Regions from separate parts of the Homo sapiens genome. Here all the other regions are linked to region 2. The links come from fine-mapping of genetic effects on gene expression. A gene starts in region 2. Each other region holds a variant in brackets. All regions are shown on one strand. Distances are between the middles of the regions.

Region 1 (8,000 bases), 24 kb before region 2:
GACTAGGGGTGACATCATCAAGAGTAGGCTCAATTCAGAGGGATGAGGGAACCGTAAGTAAAAGCAGTGTCAGGTAACTGGGCCCCTGGCAATATGGCTTGTTCAGATCATAGGTGTTTTGTATCATAAGCCGGCTTCTTGCTGGCTTCAAGTCACAGTCAAGACACAATACCAAATGCTCTTTTCCTCTCCCGCTGTCCCCTGACATTGTACAGTACAGCTGCGCGTTGGTGAGGAACTAGCACGCTCAGCGCCTATTAGCTGATGGACATACTGCATTATCTCATTTAATCCTCACAGCCACCCATAAGGTAGGCAACACTACTACAGTTGGATAAATGAAGAAACTGAGCCCAGGGAGGTAATGGGTGGAGACCAAGGTCACCACTAGTAAATGGTGGGTCCAACTGGTTCTAAGCCAAATTGATCCAAAGCCCTGCCACTGGCCGCACCAGCAAGATTCCTAACAATAGTGTACTCAGCGCCAGGAAGAGATAATGTGGGGGATGATCTTGAAGGATCATAATCCCAGCATTTTGGGAGGCTGAGGCGGGGGGATTGCTTGAGGCCAGGAGTTCAAGACCAGCTTGGGCAACATAGTGAGACCCCCTGTCTCCACAAAAAAAAAAAAAAAAATTAATTAGCCAGGCAAGGTGGCACATGCCTGTAGTCCTGGCTACTCAGGAGGCTGTGACAGGAGGATCACCTGAGCCCAGGAGTTGGAGGCTGCAGTGAGCTATGATTGCAACACTGCGCTCCAGCCCAGGTGACAAGAGTGAGACCCTGTCTCTAAAAAAATAAAAATTAAAAAAGAAGAAAATACTGTGAGAGTGTGTTACAAAGCCAGGTACGCTTCAAAGCTATGCAGCAATCAGGGGGCATCCCAAGGAAGTGGGATAATCAAAGATCAAGAGAAAAGGCCAGGGTGTTGCCAAAAAGAGGGATCTGAAATGTAATAATACAACTCCTCCCCATGGGGGTTAAAAAACTGGTATTTGAAGATGACAATGTGAGAATTCTCCAGGCATAAGATCCTCCACAGCACTGGGGCTGAACTTGAGGATGGGCACCCTCTCGAAGGCAGCAGCCTGTCTGGATGTAAGTCACACAGCCCCTTCCCTCCCCAGGCACATGCTGCTAAAGCCCAGCTCACCCTCCAGGTCTCTCGCCTTGTACCTCTGAAAACCACCTTCCAGATTTGCTAGAATCCTCTACACAGAGAACTCCAATTAATAAATGATGGTTACTGGAACATCCCTGATCACAGCCCAGTGGAATATCTCAAGGGATTCTAATGCACTGTTCCAACATTAATATTTAGAGAGAGAGAGAGAAAATTCCCCGCTCAGATGAGTAAATAATATATATAATACTTTTAAAAACACGAATGCAATTGACTTGCACAATGAACTGAAAGAGATACTATTTTTTAGCAACTATTTGAGGATTAATTGACACACTACGAGTTGCACATTTAAAATGTACAATTTGCTAAGTTTTGGCATATGTATATCCCTGAAACCATGGCCACATAAGATAATGGGCATAATCACCTCCAAAAGTTTCCTCATGCCTCTTGGTATTCCCTGCCTCCTGCCGGCCAGTCCACATCCTTGTCAAGACTTGGTATGATCTGTCTTAATTCAGACATCCTAATAGATGCACCACATGGCTAATTAAAAAAAATTTTTTGTAGAGAAGGGGTCTGTTGCATTTCCCCAATAACTGATAATATTAAACACCTTTTTCAGGTGCTTATCTGCCATCTATATATCTTCTTTTTTTTTTCTTTTTTCTTTTTTTTTTTTTTTTTTTTTGAGGAAGAGTTTAGCTCTTGTTGCCCAGGCTGGAGTGCAATGGCATGATCTTGGCTCACTGCAACCCCCGCCTCCCAGGTTCAAGCGATTCTCCTGCCTCAGACTCCTGAGTAGCTGGGATTACAGGCATGCACCAACATGCCCAGCTAATTTTGTATTTTTTTAGTAGAGATGGGATTTCTCCATGTTGGTCAGGCTGGTCTTGAACTCCTGACCTCAGGTGCTCTGCCCGCCTCGGCCTCCCATGTTGTTGGGATTACGGGCGTGAGCCACTGCGCCCAGCTTATATATCTTCTTTGGTGATACATCTGTTCAAATCTTTTGTCCATTTTTAAGTTGGAATGTTTGTTTTCTTATTGAGTTTTGAGAGTTCTATCTATACAGAATATCTGTCTTAAAGGTGAGATAAACAGATCTTACAAGTAAAATATTCAAAGCTCAGTAGCAAAACATTCCCAGTCGCATTTTGGTACTCGGTTCTTATAATTCTTAAGCTGTATCTTTCTTCATATTATACAACGCTGTGGGTTATATACAATCACAAATTAAAAGATGTGATAGTCATAGTGGACCAGAAGCTGAATACAACCCACAGCACTCTGAGTGTAATGGGAAAGATGCTGAAGTATTATCAGAGGACTTTAGTTCTCAGAACTGCCAAGAATTCTTGACATTAGTCATGACCTCCTTAGGGTTGAGGCTTTGAAAAACTTAGGCAGGCGATGAGTCAGGCAAGGCCCAAGAGGAGGAGAAAGAACACAACTACAAACATGTTGCTCAGTGAGGCCTGAGGCTAAAGGAGCTGAGATGATAAAGCTAAGGGAGAGAGCCCTTGAAACATAAATTCCAGCACTGCAGCCTGGAATGCCACATTGGAGCTAATTATATGGTGCCCAGTCCCAGGTGTGGTGGCCTGCCACCAGGACTGAATTCTAAATGTCTCCCAGGCAGAGACAGCTTGGTTCTCATGTTCCAAATTCCCAGTCCCTCTCCCTTGCTTTCCCCACCTACTCCTCTATGTGACTGGCACAGTGCCGGGCAGTGCTAAACACAGTGATTACTGACTGGTGTTAGAAGAATGATGTCCCCAACACTTCCATGAGTCATAAAGAAACTGTAAGTCTTGGGGTTCAATTGCTATGGAAAAGATTTAGATTCCACAGAAAGAACTTTCCAGCTATAAGAGATACGTGACTTAATAGAACTCTTTATTCAGAAAGGGTTTAATCTTTGCAGGAGATCCTTCAGGATGGCAGAAAAAAAAAACCTCAACATTTGATCTGGCATATAGACCACTGGGTAAGCTGTACGACTTGGAAGGGTCTCTTTGGGCCCTAGGGATTCAGAAAGCTAAACTATTGTTCTTTTCCCCATAACTGACTGTCCCCTCAACCTTCCATCACAACCACACCCTTAGACCACAAATAATCATCCTGCTTCTCCATCTGCATTTTGTTCATACTTCAAGGCTGCACGTTTTAACGTAGGCATTTAGTGTGCTAAGAACTTGCTAGTGAGATCAAAACAAACCACCAGAAAGGAATTGATGGGCTGAAGAAAAGGCTAAAGACTCTCGGCAGACACAGGCCACTGTTCTAGCCTGTAGCTTCATGGAGTCTTCAGGCTTTTCCCGTCTTGCTAAATATTTTACCTACTGTCTCCTTGCAGGTCTCTCTGCAGACAAGCATAATGAAAAGCTGGAGGCCTCGCCTGTGGGGTTCTGTCCTCTGGGCCACATGCAGCTATGCCAAGCAGGGATGATGTGGGAGAGAAGAAAGGGAAGAAATAGACTATGCAGCACTTAAACCCCCAGCTCGCTCCTGGCTTGATGCAGTGGGCTGTTCTCAGTATAGACAGGGACTCTGGGACACTTGATGGGCTGCTGCTGCTGTCAATTCCTGCAGGGATTTCACGAGCTGGAAGAACACAAGCCTGCAGCAAAGAATCCCATGCGAGTGGGATTCTCAGGCGACTCTGCCTCCCCAGGATGATTTGGGAGAACAGGTCCGGGCTGCTTCAAATGGTGGCCAGTCAGAGACATGAAGTGGCTCCTCTCTACAGGGACATCAGAGCTGAGATCAGGGCAGCCCCAGGATTCGAGAGAAGGGCATCCTGGCAGCTCAGGCCCTGTGGCAATGACCGTCGCGCTTAACCCTCCTATGCAATCAACTCAAACCCAGAACTCAATAGCAACAACACTATTTGCTTTCTGGACAGCCTCTTAAGAGGCTCTAAATCAGTAGGTCTCCCACAATTGAGCTGTGCAGCTTTTGATAAAGGAAATGACTTTTCTGAGCATTGATTTCTTCATCAGTAAAGTGAAAATAGCTTCACCCATCTCTCCAATATTGGGAGAATAATGTAAAATGCTGACCACCACTTCTGGCACATTTGGTAAGTGCTCTATCAATGACAGCTGATGCTCTTTTTTCCTCCTCCCCTCCATTTCTTCTCGACTAAAGCTTTTGTCAAAGGTTAATGTCTCCCCCAGAGGTGTGGGTTGTCACTGATCTTGCTTCAACACTGGAAAATCAAGGCCTCATCACTGCTTACCCAGGGTCAAACATCCATGGTCAAGATCAGGATCCCAAGAAATCTCAAAGCTCTACCCTGCACCCAGACCTCTTGGGCTTACAATGCACCCTTTTCAATGCCCATATTCTCTGCAGCAAAGAAACAATGTGTGGACTCAGTTGTGCCCCCACGCTCCCTGTCCGCAGCTGCCCTTGCAGTGTCCTGCTGCTGGCTGTGGCCAGCTGACCCGTTGGGCTCTCCTCCTGACCCTCCTTCCATCTGTTCCATCCTCACCCACCCAAGGAGCCGCCCCTGCTCCTAGAGACTCTGGGCACCACTGATAAGGGTGGGTACCAGGAACTCCACCCTTTACCGAGAAAGGCAGGCTGGTTTATCGCCACTCAGACCCAGCCAGC[G/A]ACCACCCTGGGGAGTGTGTCAGCCACCAGGAGCATCGCTGTTGGGGAAATGTTATTAACTAGGAAGGAACTTTACAGAATGTTCCACACAAATGTCACATTGAATTCAATCAGAAATCCAGCCTGACCCCCCCTAAACCTGGTCATTCCTTCTTAACCTTAATGGCAGTGACAGAAGAAAGGGAGAGAGGAATGGAGTCTTGGTTGTTTTTCTATTTAACTTTGTGTAGGGAGTGCCCAGTGGTCAATTAAGGTGTCCTGGGCACCCGGCCTGGCTGGAGTAAGGGATGGCAAGTGCGGGGGTCTATTTAGGGAGGTGATCAGAGCCCGGATCAGGCCCCACAGAGTTGGCACCAATCTCCATCATGTTCTTTTTAAGAGGGTTGGCAGCCCTGGAGTCTATTTTTAAACCCATGAGAAAGGTGCTGTGTGGATTCCAAAAAGGGCCAACATTAAACCCGAGATCCCTGGAGGAGGGAGGGAAGGGGGGAGGCACAGCTGAACCTAGGATTTTCTCTTCACACACACAGGGGTTCCCCTTATTCCTGGGATCAGATATTGACTGTCCTTCCAAAGGGATCTCTTGGGTTACAGGCCCACTCTTTGGCATGGCTTTGGTGGAATTCGACTCCTAACGAGCTCGTGAGTTGGAAAGGGTTTTGCACACCGGGTCTCTTTTTCAGAATTGAGATTTTTTTAAATCCCTCTACCCCCAGTGTGAAAACTCCATGTGCTTTTGATATATCCGGCATCTCCCCCTTCTTCCTACTTTCAAATCACATGTTCTGGAACCCCCGCTCCCTCCTGCATGCACTGCAGAGCCCACAGCCGAGAATCTACAACAGGAAGATCCAAGGAAAGTCTAAGTTCCCCACGGCCACGGTGCCCAGCTCCCCAGAAACCCAGTCCCGGTGCTGGAGAAGGATGGGGAGTGGACCCAAGTGGCAAGCCTGCGGGGGACAGGATTATTTTCCCAATAGTGAGAAATAAACAGGCATCCAAACGCCACTGTTTCCCATCAAATAACCAGATGAAGCGAACAGAATGTTTTATGTACAATAACAAATTTCAGCTTCAGTATCTGTGTCTCTTTTTGGATAAGAAATAGAACCAGAATTCCTAAAGAACAAAATGCCTTGAGATTAAGCAAATGCTTCTGCTGAATAGTTCTGGGACCACCCAGGACCCCCTGGGCAGGGAAGTAGGAGACGAGGTCTCTTCTCATCTCCGCTCAACTCAGAATCCCCAAGCCTAGCACAGAAGCACCACTCAATACATGTTTCCTGAGCAGAACATGATGCAGTTTTGTGCCCCATGTCAACCAGGTAGGAGCTCCCACCAGTCATGCTGAAAACAACAGACATGAGTTTAAGCACAATGCTGGCCGCACAACAGAGGCTCCATAAACGTTAGCTGGATTGGAATCCAGTCAACTCAGATTTCTAAATGAATCAGATGTTCGGGGCTAGTTGACTAAATTGTCAATGTCCCCACGTGCTATTATAGCCCCTGTAGAAACAGCCTGGGGACCACTGTCCTCTTCTGGGCAGGGAAGTTTCAGGTGCTTCCCATCCCAGGGCCAGGGCCGTGCTGCAGAAAAAAGCCTCCACACCCCAACCTGCCCTGCCCATCCTTTCCCCACAATCTCCATTAGTCCTAAATTGCCAGTCCAAGCCCAAGAGAGCAATTGTTTCCTCAGTCCCAAGGCAGCGAAGCAGACAGCTCTTCAATAGTTCACATCTTTCTGCTGAGGGTGGGAAGATATTGGGGTGTCTTGTGGGTGCCTAAATAGAATTCCAAGTGCACCCGCATCACCAAGCACCCTGGCCCACGCCGCAGAGCATGCCACATTTCCCCACTGCGCAAGGAATGGGCTGCATTTAGAATTGACACTTCAGAACATATTGTGGACTGGGGAGCCGAGACTAGAGTGGAATTACACACATTTTGGAAAATGTGGATGAGCGGCACTGCCAGAATGGGCCCATTTACTAAACTACCTCCAGTGTTTCCAAACATTAGGGAAACCTTCCTCTGCGGCCTGCTGGTATGCGAGGAGGAGGAGCACATACTGGAGAAAATGCAAAATCAAAATCATTGGGAAGGTGCTAATAGGGAAAATAGGGACTCTTCTTTTTTTTTTCAAGTTGCCAAACAGGCTTAAGTACTGGCAGTGAACCCCATGGCTCCAGAGTTTCTGAAGGATGCCCAGGCGTTGGACAGCCCTGCATGGCACGCTCTTCCTCAGCAATGAAGAAAGATTCCCACCCTTCCTTAGAAATGCAACTTTGCCTGATATAAGCTGCCATCTGGAGCAGGCGGGGCCGACCAGGGGGTACCCTGAGACTCCTCCTTTATTTGAACAATTTGCCCCAAGGGACAGAGCCAGGATGGGTGGCCCATTGCCAGCCAGAGAGACCTGCCCAAGATTCCAGAGGGGCTTGTGACCCTGAAATTTGGGGTCTGTGCCCCTGGAGTTTGTCCAGCCTCTGGAGCAAGGCTTCCCTTACATGGAGAAGGTAGCCTTGAACCATCCATTGGGAACTAGGCCTGGAAGGCCCCGTCCACACCCTCTAGCCCATGATGATTCACCGCAGAGACAATGAGATACAGAAGTGAGAGCAGGAAGGGGGAACTGATTTGAAGATAATAATAATAAAGCTACAGTTAGCAGGGCATGGTGGCTTATGCCTGTAATCCCAGCACTTTGGGAGGTTGAGGCAAGAATATCACTTGAGGCCAGGAATTTGAGACCAGCCTGGGCAACATAGCAAGATCTCTGTTTCTCCATACACACAAAAAATTAAAATTAGCCATACATGGTGGTGCGCACCTGTAGTCCCAGCTACCCGGGAGGCTGAGGTGGGAGAATCGCTTGAGGCCAGAAGTTCAAGGCTGCAGTGAGCTATGATCCTGCCATGGCACTCTAGCCTGGGCAAAAGAGTGAGACCTTATTTCTAATAATAACAATAATAATAGCTACAATGTGTGAGCCAGGTATTGTTCAAAGCATGTTAGATGTTAACACATTTAACCCTCAAAACCACCCTACGAGTTAACAGCTATTATTATTCCCATTTGACAGAAGCAGCTAAGGCACAAAAACATTAAGTCATTTGTCCAAAGTCCTCCAGGAGTAACATGATGCCTGATGCCTGGGGTGGTGCATGAAACACAGTAAAGGGGCTGGCCCTGGGCTTTGCACCATTCTGCAACCTAAGGTATTTTTAGGGTAGAGGGGAAAACTGAAATT
Region 2 (8,000 bases):
GGGGAGGTGTGGAAAATGAGGAGGGCCCTGAGGGAGGTTCTGATGAAGTGCAATGAGAGTTCAGAGGAAGGAGAAACTATTTTATGAATTTTAAAAAATCCCAAGAGCAGAGTATCTAAAAAGTCATCCACGCAAACCCTAGAGCAATAATTTTCAATCGCAGGTTTGTGAGCAAACTGCTAAGCAGTCATCAACCACGAGGTGTTCTGCAAATAATTTACTGTTCATTCATGAATGCAACCAACATTTAATGAGCATCTACCATGTGGCAGGCACTGTGCTAAGTGCCAAGGACACAGCAGTGAACAAGGCAAGCCTGAGTCCCACCCATGTAGAGTTTCTGAATATTATATAAAAATGTCCAAGTGCAGCCTGTTGAAGGAACTGACAGTGTCCTGGAGCAATTATTGTGGGAGTTCTGAATAAGAAGTAGTCCAGGGCCGAGTGCGGTGGCTCATGCCTGTAAACCCTGTGCTTTGAGAGGCCAAGGAGGGAAGCTCACTGGAGGCCAGGAGTTCAAGACTAGCCTGGGCAACATAGTGAGACCCCTGTCTCTACAAAAAATACAAAAATTAGCTGAACGTGGAGGTGCACACACCTGCAGTCCCAGCTAATCTGGAGGCTGAGGAAGGAGGATCACTTGAGCCCAGGAGTTGGAGGCTGCAGTGAGCTATGCTTGTGCCACTGCACTCCAGCCTGGGCAATACAGTGAGACCCTGTCTCAAACAAACAAACAATAAAAAAAAATAAATACAACAGTGCAGGATCAGGACAGGAGGCATCTCAGGAAGGAGTCTACACTGTCCTAAGAACACTGTGAAGCCACTGAAGATTTAAAGCAAGAAAGTGAAGTGGTAAGATTTGCCCTTCTAAAACAGCACTTTGGTTGTGTGTGAAGAATGGATTAGAGGGAGTGAGACCACCTGTAAGAAGACCACTGTTGCTTTTTAAAACTTAGAACACATTCAAGGTTCCCCTCTATCACAGCTCTGCTCTTGCACACTTACACCCGAGCTTTCTTGACAGCTCATGCTCCAGAACCTTGTTCCGCTTTATCCATGCCAAGGTCCCAAGAAGACCATGAAGGATCTTCTGCAGCTGTGATTGCAAATTCATATACTACATATGAATTGTGATTTTATAGTGGCTCCCATCTCCTTTTAAATATAACCAGTGGTAAATTATTAAGTAGGGAGCATCTATGGCACTATTTTCTCATTAAATAGGAACGTGTAAGAGAGAGGGGGATTATTAATACCCAGGTATAGCCATGAAATATGTCATGCAGAACTATGTCAACAACCAGCCCTATGTATCCCAGAGGGAAGCAAGTTGAGAACGGTTGTACTACAATTGCATGATAACACCATTTGCCACACTATATCAGGTGGTTTAATTTGGTAGCCCATCCCTACAAAACGTGAATCCCTGGTTTCAAAGGCATTAGGAAGTCATAGGTATAGGCAGAAGTCAGATGGTGCCATTTGCCTCATACAAATACTATCTAATGCTTCTCATCTCGCTCAAGGCAGAAGTAAAATCCCCACATCAATGTACAAAGCCCTGCATCTTCTGCACCTGTGCCCCTTTCCCAATCTCTCTGACCTCACCTCCTCCTGCTCCTCCTGCCTCACTCTGCTTCAACCACACTGGCCTCCCGGTTATTCCCATGACACACGCCTGCCTCAGGACCTTTGCATGTGCTGTTTCCTCTGGAGTTTGGCCTGGCTGTTTCCTTCACCTCTTTATCCAATGGCACCTCAATGAGGCTGTCTCAGAGTACCCTATTTCAGTTGCAGAACTCCCCACACATCCTATTTCCCTTGCCCGCTTCCCTCTCCCTCAATAACAGGACTGACTTTTCACCTTTCAACAGAATGCAGTTTACTCCTTTATTTTGTTTTTAGCCTGTTTCCTTCCCCTGCTGGGAAATAAGCTCTGCAAGGACAGAGTTTTTGTCAGTTTTATTCACTGCTATATTCCCGGTGCCCCAACAGGACCTAATACACAATAGGTGCTTCATAAATGCTTGTTAAAGGTTTTTGTTTGTTTGTTTGTTTGTTTTTGAGGCAGAGTCTCACTCTGTCACCCAGGCTGGAGTGCAGTGGCACCATCTCGGCTTACTGCAACCTCCACCTCCCAGGTTCAAGCGATTCTCCTGCCTCAGCCTCCTAAGTAGCTGGGACTACAGGCACACGCCACCACGCCTGGCTAATTTTTTTTATTTTTAACAGAGGCGGGGTTTCACCATATTGGCCAGGCTGGCCTCGAACTCCTGACCTCATGATCCACCTGCCTTGGCCTCCCAAAGTGCTGGGATTACCGGCGTGAGCCACCGTGCCTGGCCGTAAAGGTTGTTAAACAGACCTGGAGGACAAAGGTTTTTAGTCACTTCACCTTTAGAAAACACTCTTATTTTCTCTGTTCATTTTGGCAACACCAACAACTGAAACCCTGCTTTTCTAAATATATTGCAGTTTGATTAATCTCAAAATAAGTCAGCTGGTTTTGCAGAGACACTGGCAGAACCATTTTGGGGTGAGAGGTGGCAACCTGGGTTTAAAAACTATTATAGGCCAGGCGCAGCGGCTCACGCCTGTAATGCCGGCACTTTGGGAGGCTGAAGCGGGTGGATCACCTGAGGTCAGGAGTTCGAGACCAGCCTGGCCAACATGGTGAGACTGAGACTTAAAAATACAAAAATTATCCAAGCATGGTGGCACGCACTTGTAGTCCCAGCTACTCAGGAGGCTGAGGCACGAGGATTGCTTGAATACAGGAGGCAGAGGTTGCAGTGAGCCAACATCACACCACTGCACTCCAGCCTGGGCAACAGAGCGAGACTCTGTCTTAAAAATAATAATAATTATTATTAAATAAATAAATATAAAAACTAATTACAGCTGCTTGAGCCACGAAAAAGAATGAAATCATGTCATTTGTAGCAACGTGGTTGTAACTGGAGGTCATTATGCTAAGTGAAATAAGCGAGGCACAGAAAGACAAATACTGAATGTTCTCAGTCATACATAGGAGCTAAAAAAGTTGATTTCTTGGACCTAGAGAATAGAATAATAGATACCAGAGACCAGGAAGGGTGGGTGGGGGGCAAGAGAATGAAGAGAGATTGGTTATGCGTACAAACATACAGTTAGATAGAAGAAATAAGTTCTGGTGTTTGATAGCAGCTTAGGGTGACTATACTATAATAGCAACAATACCGTGTACATTTCAAAGTTACCAGAAGAGAGGACTTGTAATGATACCAACACGTAAAAATGATAAACATTCAAGTCTATGGACACCCCAAATACCCTGTCTTGGTCAGTACACATTCTATGCATGAAACAAACACTCACATGTATTCCACAAATATGTAAATTATTATATACCAATAACAGAGAAGAAACTAATTATAATTGACCCATAAAGTCAAGGGTGAGTTGAGTCTATGGATCCTGGTTACAATAAACGTCTTCAAGCCTCTGTCCCCTTTGCTAATGTTTTCATAACCGAGTAACTCACTTCAGCCTCACAGCAGACCCATTTCCCAGACAAGAAAACTGAGACACAGAGAAAAGTGGCTTGAGGCTGTAACTTGATTTGTGAAAGAAGGCTAATTTTACCCATTTTTTCCATCGGCCATTCCTTATTCCTGCAAAACACTTGCGTTTGAGTCTGAAGACAGTTCACACATTGCACGGGACACCTGCAGTCACCTGCCTCCTTCCAAAGTTGGCTATGATCAGGTCTCCAAGACTCACCCTGAACCTCTGCCCTAGAGTGGTGCCACAAGAGGAAAAAGACTCTACCAACTTAACCTGAATTGCTTGCCGCTGGTGGAACTAAAGTGGGAGGCCCAAGCTTCCTCTACAGAGCCTCTCTCTCCTTAGAAAAAAAAAAAAAATCAACCAGGAAAGGCAAATTGTACAGATGCCACTAAAAAGAAATTCCCGCTTAGTATTGCTTCCTCTGCACCCAGCGACTTTTAGACAAGCAGAAGACGAAATGCCCTGCCCGCGACTAAACCAGACTCCTTTTCACTTACTACCCTTTCAGCGTGTGTGTGGCCTGATGTCCAACTCTGGGCTCTGAATCCATCACTAAACTAAGAACCGTACCCAACAAAGGACACTGACACATGGCACAGGCTGGCCGTGCTGCCAGGCAGAGATAGGACGGGTTCTATCTACACAGGGAGAACAAGAAGGCTGGAGTGGCCTTGCTAACGCGCCATTATCACTTGAAAAATATCCATGAGAGCCTATCTCCCCAGGCCACGCCGCCGCTCTTTCCCTTCCTTCGTAGACATATTTCTCTCCATGAATTAACAACATAAATTAAAAGAACCGAGCAGGTGTGACCATGAGACCACCGGCCTCCGTGAGTCTTTGAGAAAACAAGCCAAAGTCCCCTTCCAAATGACAGTGACAGCCCCCTAGCCGGGTGGCCCACCCCGCAGCCTGTAATAACACACCTACAAAACGCAGTTTAGCAGACTCAAAGGAAAGCCTCTAAGATCTCAATAGATTTGGACTATAATCCAAAAACCATCCCTCCCCAGCGCTATTGCTGACAGGACATAATTCAGAGACCCAGGTAGTTGGAACTCAATTTGACAGCAAATCTCTGGATGTAAAAAATATGAAACTGGCTTCAGCGAGTAGGGCAGAGTCCACCTGCTGCCTTCAGCTACAAGGTCGATGTGCCGCTATGCTAAGGCAGGGAGCCCACGGGGAGGCGAGGCGGGTGGGGTGTGCAAAGCTGCTCTTGCTCGCGTGCTGCCTACTGGCGCGGCCTGGGTGGCCCCCTCCTGACATCTCCCCGTCCACCCGAGCAGCCGCCCAGTACTCACTTCGCGGAAGCCCACAGAATAGGGCATGCCGGTCTTTCAGCAGGGGCCCGCCGAAGGGCCTTGGGGGCTTGAGGAGGAGCAGCTGGGGCTGGCGGACTCACCGCAGCCTCTGCGGGGCCTGTGACGTGCGGGCCAGGCCCCCGAGGGCCTTATCGGCCCCAGAGGCGCTTGCTGTCGGGCCGGGCGCTCCCGGCACGGGCGGGCGGAGGGGTGGCGCCCGCCTGGGGACCGCAGATTACAAGAGCACCTCCTCCCCCAACCCCAGGAGGCCCCGCTCCCCAGGCCTCGGCCGGCGCGGACCCCTGGTTGCCCCGGGGTCGAGAGCAGCCGGGGAGAGCTGAGTTCAGAGCCCAGAGTTGGACATCAGGCCACACGCTGAGAGGGTAGTAAATGAAAGGGAGTCCGGTTTAGTCGCGGGCAGGGCATCTCCTCTTCTGCTTGTCTAAAAGTCGCTGGGTGCAGGGGAAGCAATACTAAGCGGGAATTTCTTTTTAGTGGCATCTACACAATTTGCCTTTCCTGGTTTTTGTTTTGTTTTGTTTTGTTTCCTAAGGAGGGGGAGGCTCTGTAGAGGAAGCTTCGGCCCTGGGTGCCCCTGGGTTGGGAGCAGTCGGGGAGCGCTGAGCCAGGGCGCACGCCCTGTCGGCGCTGCGGGTGTGGGGCGCAGGAGTCCTTCTGGCCGGCCCCTCCGCCCCCCGGGGAGGCTGGAGCTCTCCAAGGCCGGGGAGCCTCCCGAAGCGCGCTGCCCCCTCTGTTCTCCGCGTGCTTTCACTAGGGCCCCATGCTGCTTAGTGGCCGATTTGCAGGGAATCTGGGCACAATCTTAATAACACCAGGGCCAAAAATAACAACGTTCCTGGGAACCGAGGTGAGTCACCGCAAACAGCGGCTAGGAGGGCGTGGGATGGCGCGGGCAGGGGGGCGCCCAGGCGGTCCCGCAGCTGCCAGAAGGTCGGGGCTGCCCACCAGCCAGGCTGGACCATCCCAGGCCAAGCTCCTGCAGGCCTGGCCTAGGAAGCCGCCTTTTGCAACGTCCGCCCGTCCAACAACGGGATGAGATGTCATCTGCCCAGAATGGCTTTATCAGTGAGAACACCATATCCTGGAATGGCAGTTGGTGGCTGGCAGAGGGAACAGGTGACCCCGAGGAGCTGAGCTGCGGGGCCAGGGGCATGGCAGCCTCCCTGGACCCTGGGGGTGGTGCCATTAAGGTGGGGGCTGTCTCCCTCCATGGTTTCCTCTAGGGGTGGGTGTCACCGCTGGGGGCCTCTGGTGCAGTCCTCCCTGAGAAGGGTCTCTCCAGCCTTCCTCACGTGATGCTTGGCCTCCTGCTGGGCCCACGCTGGTCCAGGTCCCCTGACGAGGCCGCCATCTGGCTTTAGAGCTTTCCCGCAGCACCAAACTGGCCTTGCCATGAGGGCACAGCTGCTGCGGAAAGATGCCACCGAGATCAGCTTCATGACCCGTCTGTGTTTTCCACAGCAGCTGGAGCGCACCCCATGGACGCTGGGCCATCTCCCCGGGGACTAGTGCCTGACAGAGCTGACAGAGTTCTAGGCCACATGTGGGCTAGAAGGAACCGCCATGTCTACCACAGCACAGTCCTTAAGCAGGAGCCTTTTGAAGCACTTGGACTCAAAACAATGGCTGTTTGTTGTTGTTGTTGTTGTTGTTTGTTTGTTTTGAGGGAGCCAGAAAGCTAAAAAATGTAAAAGAAGCAGGTCACATTAGACATGATTTCAGACAGCCTCCCCGAAGGACAGATGATCTCACTTGGCAACACATACTGGGCCAGGCTCACTCATGAGGGGGCAGCGTGGCATGCACCCCACTCAGGGGCAAGAATGAAGCTTAAATATTAGCTGACTCAGAACATAGCAAGTGCTCAGTAATGGCTTCTGGAACGAACCCGTGGTTGTCACCAGCAGGAGTGACGAAAGCTAGAAGCCGTTTCACCATCCAAGGAAGAGGAGGAACAATATTTTTCTCTTTGGAGTTCCCACACTCAGAAGAGAGAACACCAGCATATGAACACAGAGTGTCACATGATGTAGGAAACATCCTGTAGGTAGAGAGTATAATTCCAAAGCTTAGGATCCTGCTAGTTCCTTGTGCAGTGCTTCCGGTGGGCAACATGGTGCCTCCCCAGTCCCTCAGGCTTGAGGCGGGCCAGCACAGCTTCTCTGGGAGCCAGGTCATTTCAGAATTTAACCCCAGAACTAGGTCACCCCAGGCAACACAAGGCTCCTCTCCCTTGGATACAGGAAGCGGAGGAAAAGGCCAGGCATGCTCAGGGGCAAACCAACACCCAGGTGAAAGGGAGCTGGGCTGGTTTCGGGGAGCAGCCTGGTTTCAGGGAGCCGGACTCACGATGTGCTTGAGACCCTCAAATTCACCCCTGGAAGCAGCTGCCCCCGTGACAAGGAACTAAGGACAGGCATGTCATGGACTGTGAATTGGAGTGACATTTGTCCCTCCCTTCACCAACAGACTGCCCCAAGAGCTTCCCAAGTTATCTGCCATAGAATACCTTGTTTCCCTCGAGTCTCTGAAAGGGGGCCGCAAAAGCTGTCCCCACGCTGGAAATGCAGGGCCAGGCTTTTAAAGTTTTGCTCCCGGATTATGAGAACACCTAGAAAATTCAGTGCTCCTCTCCACTCCCCCAAACCCCTTCACAAGCCCCCACCCTTTGTTTAACAAACATATATATAGTGCTTTCCTGGTACCAGATACTACTTTAAGCACTTGACAAAATATTTAGTCATACATAAAACCCTTATAATTACACTGTAATTCACTCTCGTCAGATCCAGTCATTGTGAAGAAACGGAGGCACGGGGAGATTAAGAGAGCTACTTAAGAAGACACGGTGCCAGGTTTCTACCCAAGCCATTTGGATCTAGGGTCTGGAGGCCATGTGAGCCATTTTGCATTAGATTAACGCTTTAATTCAGTTCACAGTTAGACAATATACGTTCCCCATCTATATCTATACCCATCTGGAAGGCAACAAAAAGATAATAAACTGATAGTGTCATGTGCCCATGACCCAGCTAACAAAGAGGCTCTGGGTTCCAATGCCCCAGTCTTTCATGGGATTCCATCGACCTCATGCCCTGCTCCCCTCCCCAACAGAGATGGAAAC
Region 3 (9,871 bases), 150 kb before region 2:
GGGGATTTCCGCAGCTCAGGGGCCGTCATCCTGCAGTGTCAGGGGCATTTTTTCTCCACTGGGATGTCCCACTTCCCCTCCTGGAGGCAGATTTCCTGCAGCCTGGGTTAGGTGCTCAGCTCTGGCCCCTCCAGTGGGACCCTTCCTGTGCACAGGTCTGAGGAGTGCACCTGGCCACTCACCTGTCTTTTCTTCTGCAGCCAGCAGCTGGCTTGGGGCCCAAGACTCTGGACTTCTGACTCCCCAGCCAGCTGCCTCCCTCCCTGGGAAGTCCTGCCCACTCCCCCCGCCCCAACAGCTGGATCACAGTGGCATGTCTGGGACCCCACAGCCAGTTTCTTGGCTGCAGAGCCTGGTCATTTTAGTCCTCTGTCCACTTGTGAATCTGCAGAACTGGCAGGCGAGGCCCGAGGAGGTGCAAGGGGCAGCGGCTTCCAGGTCTCAGGAGTGCTGTGCCTCCCTCCTGGCCTCCTCCTCCCTTAGCTAGGATGCCTGTCCCCTTTCCCTCCTTTTCCTCCTCCTCCCCCGCCTCCCCTCCTCCTCCCCTGCACCTGCTGCTCCTCCTCCACGCGCCCCTCATCCAAAGAAAGACTCAGTCCCTGCGCCCCCAGGAGCGTGGGGAAGGGGAGGGGAAGGTAGGCTCCTCGGCGTCCCCCCGCAGGCTGCAGCCAGGATCCCGGGCCTGGACGGCGGGCGTCAGACGCTGTGCGCTCCCAGGCTGAGCACCGAGAAGGCGGCGCGGTGCTTGCGCAGCAGCAGGCGGATCTTCTCGTCGTCCGAGTCGGGGTCCAGCGGCTTGTTGTACTCGTCGTCCTCGTTCTCCGAGGGTGCGCGGTCCCCGCCTGCGCCTGCACCCGCGCCGCCCGGGGCCCGGGGCGTGGAGGACGAGGGCTCCAGGGCGCTCTTCTTCCGCCACTTGGTCCTGCGGTTCTGGAACCACACCTGCGATGAGAAAGAATGTGAAGGGCACAGGGGCACAGCGCGCACGGGACGCGAGAACAGCCATCCTGCTTTTACAGCTAAACAAATGGCTCAACAACGGAGTGACTGTCACATTCACGTTTCTGTTGGGGAAGGACAATAAAATTTAAAAACGTGAGCGCGGCAGCCCTCCCCTCCGCCCCCCGCCCCCACCATTTGCTTCCTCTTCCACCGCCGCCTCCTCCCCCTCTCCCTCCCCCTCCCCCTCCCCTCCCCCTCCCCCTCCCCCTCCTCCTCCTTCTCCTCCTCCTCCTCCTCCTCCACCTGGGAACTCGGTGGAAGATGCGGAGTGCGCGGGTGGAAGGCTTAGCCCCGGTGCTCATTGGAAGGTGCTTATGAGCAGTCCCTACTCTGGGCTTCATAGACCCTCACCCTACTTCATAAATAATTGTTCCCCTAGTTAGTTAGAAAAGTAACGTAGGTCCATTGCTTGGGATAGTTGAAGAGGGCAGGAACGCACCCCAGAAGCAGAAAGACATGCAGGAGTGTCTGCTTCTTCCCCCCAGCTCTCGCCCCAGGGCAGCTGAGCGGCTGATGAGGAGGGCGCAGCGGGTTGGAGCTCGGGGAGGCCCCAGGGCCCTGAGCAAAGCCTAGACCCAGGTGCCAGCTGCCCCTGCTGCATCCTTAGGCCCGTCGCCGAGTCACTGAGCCAGCATCAAAGTGGGGAAAGTTGCCCCCAGACTCTAAGGCGGTAGAAACCGGTTTCCCCGGGTCTATTTAGGGGGCATTTGGGGCCCCTGCGTGTGGAGTGGGAGAGCCTGGGCTCACCCTCCCTAGCCCTGGCGTGGGCGACAAGGCTCCAGGCCCCTGAAGCCCATCTGATCCTGCTTAGTAGAAGGAGACGTTGTCTTCATCTTAAGGATTGGTAAACTGAGGTCAGCTCCTTTTGCTGACTGGAGCATCAAGCATGAATCTGGGCCAGAGACTGCCGACCGTGCTTGGAATTTTTGGCCAAATACGGGGGGAGAGGGAAAGCCTCAGGTTGGAGTCCCCCACATCTGGGGTTGAACCCCAGCTCTGCCAGCTCTCCCAGCTCTCCCAGCCGGGAGACACTGATCTTCATCTGCGAAATGGGTGATGATACCGACCCCCCGGGTTGCTGAGAGGATGAAATGAGGTGCCGCACATAAGGCTCTGAGAATGGGGCTCAGCCTTTCCCGGCTATGGTTAATTACCACAGGCTCCAGGGTTAGGCAGGCAGGCAGTGCCCAGACACCAGGACAGCTGCCCTCTGGGGGGCTGCGTTGTGTGGCCACCTCTCTCCAACGCAGTGGCCTCCTGTCCGGCAGGCTCCTCCCTGCAGGGCAGGTGCCATCTCCCGCACAGACTTACCTTGACCTGCGACTCGGTCATGCCCAGTGAGTATGCCAGCCGTGCCCTCTCGGGGCCAGCCAAGTACTTGGTCTGCTCAAAGGTTTTCTCCAGGGCAAAGATCTGGTGCCCCGTGAAGGTGGGCCGGGTGTGCTTCTTCTTGTGTATGCTGTCACTCAGGGGGTCTGGGGCTGGCAGGAGGAAGGAAGTGTGGGGTTAGTAGAATAAGTGGGGACCCTGCGGCTAGGCACGTCTGGCAGGGCAACCACCATGCCTGCCCCTCTCCCTCCTGCAGAGGTTTCCAGGACACCAAGATTCCTTTCCCCTGAGCAGCATTCTTGATATTGGGGAACAGTGACTGTGACCTCTGCCCCGCCTGGATGGGCAGGGCTCCGAGAGGGCAGCTGCCCTAGTGTAATGGGACTTAGGGGCAGCAGAGCCTCATGCCTCTCTGTCTAAAGTTCTCAATACTCGCTGATGTTGCCTTCCCCTGAGGGGCAACAGGAGTTCCCTCTCTGTCCCAGGGATGTCCCTTCAGGTCACCCTCCTCCTATAATTAGGGACCAGGGCCTGTGAATTCCCTCCACCCCCGGCTTCCGCCAACTTCCTTGCTCTTGAGACTCAACTTCCCAGGTCTCCAGGAAACCAGGGAGGGGCAAACCTGACGCCCCAAGCTGCCACTTCCCCATGTCACCAGGCCTGGAAGTTATGTGGCTTCAACCACCCTGGAGAGCCTGGCACAGAGGCCAGAGACCCTGACCCCCAGCCTGGCCAGGGCAGCAGGCTCGGGAAGGAGCTGTGGGCAGTGGTTCCCACATGTCAGGCCTCGTTCTGTGCAGTCTGACAGCTCAAGTTACAGGTGAGGAAACTGAGGCACAGAGAGAGGAAGAGCCCTCCTGAGAGATCATGTTCAAGTCTCTCTGCCTTTGCCTTCATTAGCCACTGACTTTCTTGGCTATGTCCCTGTGTGTGTACCTGCATTCAGGACTGAAGAGGTGGTGTGTGGGATGTGGAGAGGGGAGGGGGAGATGGAGGGAAGAGAGAGTCAGCTGAGGCTTAAAGCACCCCTGAAGCCAAGCCTAAAACAGGATCTGAGAGAGGAGGCCTTCACCCCCAGGGGCACAGCGATGGGTGGCAGCCCATGGAGGGGTGGCTGTCAGGCACTGTGACCGGCAAGGCAGAGTAGCAAATGGGGGGACAGGTGTGCTTTTGGGGTTCCCTAGGTTGGCCCCAAGCCCCCATTGGCGTAGGAGAGCCCGGAGATCAGACAGAAATGGAGGCCCCTGCCTGACGTGGGCAGGGCTTCGGTGGCACGGAGAAGATTCCAAAAACTCTCACCTCCCTGCCTCCCAGCAGAGCCTCACCTGCCCTGCCACCTCCTCCAGTAACCCTGACTGGCATCACGGGCCCACCCTCTGAAAACCTTGGCTGAGGGATGGGTCGGCTGAGAAGAGGCCCCCTGCTTCCCCACAGCCAAGGCCAAGTTCAGCTGGACTCAGCAGCAACTCCCCGAGACAGGCTACTTGGTGTGGCTGCTGTTGCTAGAAACCCGAGGATGTGGTGGGCAACAGCCCCCTGGCTCAAAGGCTGGACCCGGATGGGGTCAGGGTGCGTTCTGCACCCTTGAGTGATGCCAGGGCTCTCTGGGAAGGTGAGCTAGGACATTTTCCTCACGGGGGTAGCATTTGCCTGCTTTGGGTGAAGAAGTGGTTGCATGGGCCCTGGGCTGCAGAAGCCAGCTGGGCTGCCTACTGGACCTCGTGCAGGGCAGGCGTGGGCTGTGGGGCCTTCTCTACATCTGGAACTGCCGGGGGCCCTAGGAGGGCAGCTGAGGTGGCTGGCATGTGAGGGGGGTGGCTCAGACACCTGTGTCCAAGCACTGCTGGATGGGAAGGAGGAGAGGGTGGAACTCAGCCTGCACTGAGCTGAGGCTACGAGTCCAGGGGTTAATGGCGACTGGGGGAGAGGGCGGAGGTGCAGGGTGCCCGGGAGGAGGCCCCTCCTCGTCCTCTGCCCCCCGGGGCCTGGCGGGTGCCGGGAGGTGGCTGGGGAGGACCCGTACTCACTGTTGCTGCACTGCCGCCCGCCTCGCCAGTCTTGGCCCGTGTCCGCCCAGCAGTTCCGGGTCCGGGTCGGGTACTCGTTCCCAGCCTTGGAAAAATTCCCTACCTGGGGGCTGTAGTAGACCCCCTGCGAGCTGAGCCCCCCAAAGCCTGCCACGTGGGGGTAGCCGGAGAGGAGGCTGTTGTTCGGCGCAGCCACGGGCCTGCTCAGGATGTCCGTGATCCCGTGGGGGGTTCCGGCGGCCAGCTGGGGGCCCAGCCCTGGGGGGCTGAGCTTGTAGAAGGAGTTCTGCACAGAGTACTGGCACACCGGGGCCTTCATCTCCGGAAACTGAGCCAGCGGCGTGTTGTTCAGCAGGAACGTCCCCTGCAGGTTGGACTCCATGATCTCCCAGTCAGGACAGGGAAGGCTTCTCCAGGCCCCTAAAACCCAAGAGCCCACTCTCTAGCCCCAAATCTCATGGCAGGCCTGGAGGCTTAGGACCGTCTCCGAGCTCCTGACTGCCTCCCACCTAAGGCATGGGCCAGGCCCTGGCCCAGGAACCGGCACCCGATCAGCTGCTCGGAAGTCAGGTGCTCGGGGCAGGTGGGAGGCCTCCCCAGGGCTCCTGGCCTCTCTCCTTGCCCTGGCCGGACAGGGTGGCCCCCTAAGCCTCAGCTCAGACCCCCTTTCTGCCTCTGAGTCGGGGGACCCTCCATGAGAAGTTTTAAGTTCAGAGAAGGAACATTTCCCTGATAAAGATACGGCCCATTAGAATACAGGCCGGAGACTGGCTGAGCCGCCGGAGCCGCGCCGCCATTGGTCGGGGCGCACACGGGCCTCACATTGGCTTTTCCTAGACAAATTGCACTTTGAAAGATTGACTGTACAATCAGCCAGGGTGTGTGTGTGTGTGTGTGCGCGCGCGCGCGCGCGCGCGCGTGTGTGTGTGTGTGTATGCGCGCGCGCGCGAGAGAGAGACAGAGAATTAGCTCTAGAAGCCCTACTCATCGCCGGAGGGTCCATTTGCTCCCCGCAAGTCTAGCATCTAGGAAAAGGTGAGCGTCTGGGGGCCCCTGGAGGCTCCCAAGGCAATTGGAAGTCACTGTTCCTACAGCTGCTCCCCTAGGGAAGAGGAGGCTGGACTCAGAGGCCACTGTCCGGAGCTGCGCCGGCCCCTTTATGTGCACATGTCCAAGCTCCACAGGAGAACGCAGCCGCTTCCTTCCCTTCCGCATGCGGGGATGGGGTAAGTGGCATAAGATGGGGGTAAGTGCGGGGATGGGGTAAGAGGCTGAGTGGCATTGCTTTCTGGGGGATGCAAGTCCCTGTGGCTGGCTTGAGAGCCTAGGGTGGGAGCCTGCTGGGAAGAGGGCAGCGCGGGGCGTAGGCAGCCCTGACAGTGCCGGGGTGTGAGTCCTCCAACTGCAGGAGGCTGAAGAGAGGGCCGCCCTGCACGCATGTTCTTGCCTCCACCTCTGGTCGGCCTTCCGTGACCTCCCTATCAGAATCTCTTCCTCATTTGTGCCTCTGCTGGAGCAATGGCCATGCTCTGTCTGGCGTGGTGCCCGGGTTTGAAATCCCTGATGGCTGAGAGGGTGGTGGAGCCCCGTGCCGGGCACTCCGTCGGTGCTCAGTTAGTAGTTGATGCAGTGGACTGGGCTGAATCACAGAACATGCATATGCTTTTTTTTTTCTCGAATAAATTTTTACAACATACAAGGCTCTATTGGGGGAAGCTCTCATTTTACAAACAGGAAAACCAAGGTATAGAGGAATTGGAGCCCACTTTCCAGGTACATGGGTGATTTCTGGACCAGGCAGGATTCTTCCCTGCAGTTTTTCTCTAAAACTGGAAACTAGCATGCCACTGGCCTGAACATGTAAAATGCTAGGAAAGACTGTGACTGCCAGACAGATGGACTTCTGCTCCTCTCTGTGCCTGGTGGCCCCAGAGCCCTTCCTGACCAGGCGTGGGCTCTGCAGGGCTTGCTCTCTCACTCCCCAGAGGCCGCCCTGGTAGGTGGGAGACTAGAGGCACTGCTTCACTGAGCTTCTCCTGGGTTTCCAGGCCGTCTTGGTTTTCAGTGGGGAGCAGAGGACCCAAGGCTCAGGGCAGGATTCCTTCTCATGCAGAAGTTGACCCTCTGTAGCACAGGGATTTAGGTTATGCAAGAAAGATCTCACAAAGGGTGTGGAATGATTCCCTACAAATTTGGTTTAAAGAGAAAAGAGCTACGTCTTCGTCTGAGATGGCTTTGCCACCAGGTCGCGTGCCACAGCCATCTGGTAGACCTGGTTCTGGTTC[C/T]CGGTGTCACCACCCAATTCCCCCCAGGCAACTGTGATTCTGAAACTGCATTTTTAAAAGCCCCATGGGTGCTGCAGATGACCTGCTGCGGTTGCCCACTGGCCTGAACGGCCTGTCCGATTCCAGGAGAGAGGCTGGGAGTGGGGTGGGGCTGGGGTGCTCCAGGGGCCTTGGGATTGTGACTCCGTCATCCCCTCATGATGGGAATTTATGTGGCAGGAAAGCCGCAGCCAATGATTTGATTCTTAATTAATGCCAAGCCTGACAAAGGCGTTGGTGTCTGGCGCCCCTAGGATGAGAAACTGAAGAGACTTTAGCAACCACCTAATCCATTCTCCCATTAGAGAGATGAGGAAACTGAGGTCAGCTTGGTGACCAGCCTTGCAGGAAGTGTTAGCAACTAGTTAGGAATAGGGCAATTTTTTCCCTACAGCAAGAACAAGTTCTTGAACTTTGAATGGCATTGAGTACTGGGGCCAGATGCCTTCCTAGGGAATGCTGGGGGGCCCCCTCAGTGCATGCCAGCTGGGGGCCTGGCCAAGAACCCTGGTGGGTTGTGGTGGCCCCTCCCCAGACCCCCAACTTCTCCCCATCTCATGGGAGCCATCAGGTGGAACAGAAAGCTACTCTGCCACCTCTCTGGAGGCATCTCTCAGGTGGGTGGTCCTGATTAAAGGGTTGTCCAGGCTTCTGGGAGGACTGGGCATTGGCGGGCTCTCTGGGACCTGAGCCCCACCCATAGACTCCTTCACATCACAACCCAGGCTTTACGCTGGCCTCAGCACCCCTAACCCCCCAAAGACGAGCGGGAAGGAGAGATAGAGCCCTGTGCCATTAGTCCATTTCTTTATTAATTTTGACATTGGTTCGGCTGGTGAAGGGAGAATGGTCTATACATCAGAGTAGGGTAGGGGATTCTCTCCCATAACAGAGCATGTGGGAGAGTCAAGAAAAGATCCATTTTCATAACAATTAAAAAAATCAAGGTAATTTCAAAACTTCTAAAAAGCGTCTAATGTGCAGACTGCAGCATTCTCTAGGCATCGTGTGGAGACCCCAAACTCCTCCCCTAACGGCTCCTACTAGCAGCCGGAGCGTGCAGCCATGCCAGCCGGAGCAGAGGTGCCAAAGCGGAGTCTGGAGCTGCGGGGTCCGCGGGGGCGCTAAGGGGGCTACTGGGTTGGCTGCAGCAGCGACCTGGGAGAGGAAGGTGCAGGATCGAGGCGGGAGAGGCGAGCCCTGAGCCCAGCTTCCTTGGGCCGTCACCGAATCGGTCCCAGCCGCGCTGTGCGGCCCCCCTGCCGTGGCCCCCGGGATGGGGGAGGATGGAGGGGGGCGCCTCTGCGCCCTGGAGGCCGGGCCGGGGTGGCCTCTGGCGGAGACGGCAGCCGTCCGGGCTCGCCCTGCAGCTCCTCCGACGCAGCCTCGGGGAAACTCAGGCCCGGAGCTAGAGCTTCCTCTCCCTGCCCGCCCCTCTAAAGGAAGCAAAAGCAGCCCCACCCCCGGCCGACAAGGCGCCTAGGCCGCCCCGGGGCCTGCCTGGCCGGGGGTGCACCGGGGCGGATTTGTGTGGGAAGCAGGGCCCCTCTCCGCTCACAGGCCCCGCGGCCAGGGGGCCTCTGACGTGGAGGGGGCTTCTGTGCTACTTGGAAGGTTTAAGTGTGTCCCGAGGACACTCCCGCAGAGCGGCGGGGCGGACGGGGCCGGGCCGTCCACACCGCGGCTCCAGGGGCGAGAGGAGCCAGCCCTGTCTCTCTCTCCTGGCCCTGGGGGCGCCCGCCGCGAGGGCGGGGCCGGGATTGTGCTGATTCTGGCCTCCCTGGGCCGGAGGCTCTAGTGGAACTTAAGGCTCCTCCCTGATGGCACCGAGGCGAGGAACTGCCAGCTGTCTGTCTCCTTCCTGCCTTGACCCAGAGCCTGGCCCCGGCCTCTGGGCGTCCAGGCTCTCCGCCTCCGACTCTACTCTCACCGGCCATGCGGTCCGGGGAGCCCCCTGGCTCGCCTCTCCAAGAGGCCACAGGGGCTGGGCAGAGGGGAGGCACTGAGGCAGGACAGGGAACAGCCTCGAGCCTGGCACCTGCACCCAGGGTCCCCAGCCTGCAGGCTGCCTGGACTTAGAGCACCAAGTTCACTCTGGGAGACCCTGGGTGGTCCTGACTTCTAAGACCTGGCAGATACATTCACTAGCCCTACTCCTTTCCTTCCTCTTTCACTGAAAGACAGGCCACAGCTCCTTCTCCTGCAGCCGCAGAAGTCCTCAGGAGCTGCGCTGTCAGGCTCTGTACGTACTGCTAAATGTTTCTATTGGTTTGCATAGTATTTATTGTTTTTCATATACACAAGGCTGATTACTGTACAGTTTACACTTTGAACACGGACTATGATATAGTGCTTGAAGACATAGAAAACCTCTTCTCTATGGACATGCTGGTGCAATCCTGGGTCAGCCACCGGCCTGTCCCCCAACTGAGAGAGGAGACCCTTTCAGATGGGGTCCTGGCTCCCTTTGAGTCCTACAGGTAAGCCTGGGGGTCCTCGCCTCAGATTCTTAAGTCCCTAACACAAGGAACCCCGAATGCACTCTTCAAGGTAATGATTTTCCATTGGAAGATGATTCGTATTGAAATTGGCAGAGAGAGAGACAACATAAAAAATTCCAATTTATCCACAGCAGAGTCTATACAGCTTCAGAAGTCACAGTAAAATCTGTGTGTAGATTCAGTGGAGGCGAGTGGTGTGTGTGTGTGTGTGTGTGTGTCCTGAATGTCATGTAGAGCGATCTGGGAGGAGCGTCACCAGGGAGTCGAGGGGGTGTCACAAGTGGAATGGAGGTATGTGGGTTGGGGAGGGTGGGCAGATGAGGACATGGCTTAAGATTAAGGTGTTAAACTGATTTCATGCCTAGTTTTCTTTTTTTTTTTTTTCTTTCCAGGAAGCCCACATGGATTTCTGACAGATGAGGTTGGGAAAAAGTACCCTGTACGAAGTCAAAACAATTTAAAAAAAAAACCCCAAAACCAAAACCCATCCCCAGCCACAAAAAGCCCTCATTCACTTTTGCGTTCGCAGGCTCTCCTGCGCTTGTTTTCTATCCCTCTCTCTCCCCGCTTCTTGCTGCTTTTGTGTCCTGGTTCCGACAGATCAGCTGTCATTGCAAGAGGCAGGATTGAAGCCTGGAGGTCATGCGTCTACAGTCAGTCATTCATGCCAAGAGGGGACTAGCAGGAG

What was found.
Region 1: its variant is fine-mapped to the expression of ANK1 in whole blood (TOPMed, PIP above 0.99).
Region 3: its variant is fine-mapped to the expression of ANK1 in whole blood (TOPMed, PIP above 0.99).

Annotation. Positions count from the first base shown.
Region 1 is chr8:41,768,182-41,776,181 of GRCh38, forward strand. All of the region lies in intron 1 of ANK1 (ankyrin 1), which reads right to left. Among named protein-coding and RNA genes, the nearest start is that of ANK1, 25 kb to the right of the region's middle. The variant G/A (reference allele first, on the strand shown) is at 4,748.
Region 2 is chr8:41,792,657-41,800,656 of GRCh38, forward strand. It overlaps ANK1 (ankyrin 1), which reads right to left and starts at 4,966. Exons shown (of 43, transcript NM_000037.4): 1 at 4,856-4,966. The coding sequence starts at 4,882. LOC105379392 (a long non-coding RNA gene) reads left to right here and starts at 5,122. Exons shown (of 3, transcript XR_949708.3): 1 at 5,122-5,723; 2 at 6,338-7,772. RefSeq lists enhancers at 1-600, 6,039-7,238.
Region 3 is chr8:41,645,753-41,655,623 of GRCh38, forward strand. It overlaps NKX6-3 (NK6 homeobox 3), which reads right to left and starts at 5,065. Exons shown (of 3, transcript NM_001364841.2): 1 at 4,359-5,065; 2 at 2,314-2,483; 3 at 1-942. The coding sequence starts at 4,740. The coding sequence ends at 697. It overlaps ANK1 (ankyrin 1), which reads right to left. Exons shown (of 43, transcript NM_000037.4): 43 at 7,473-9,871. RefSeq lists silencers at 808-1,037, 7,903-7,952, 7,973-8,042, 8,063-8,402 and an enhancer at 7,582-8,375. The variant C/T (reference allele first, on the strand shown) is at 6,644.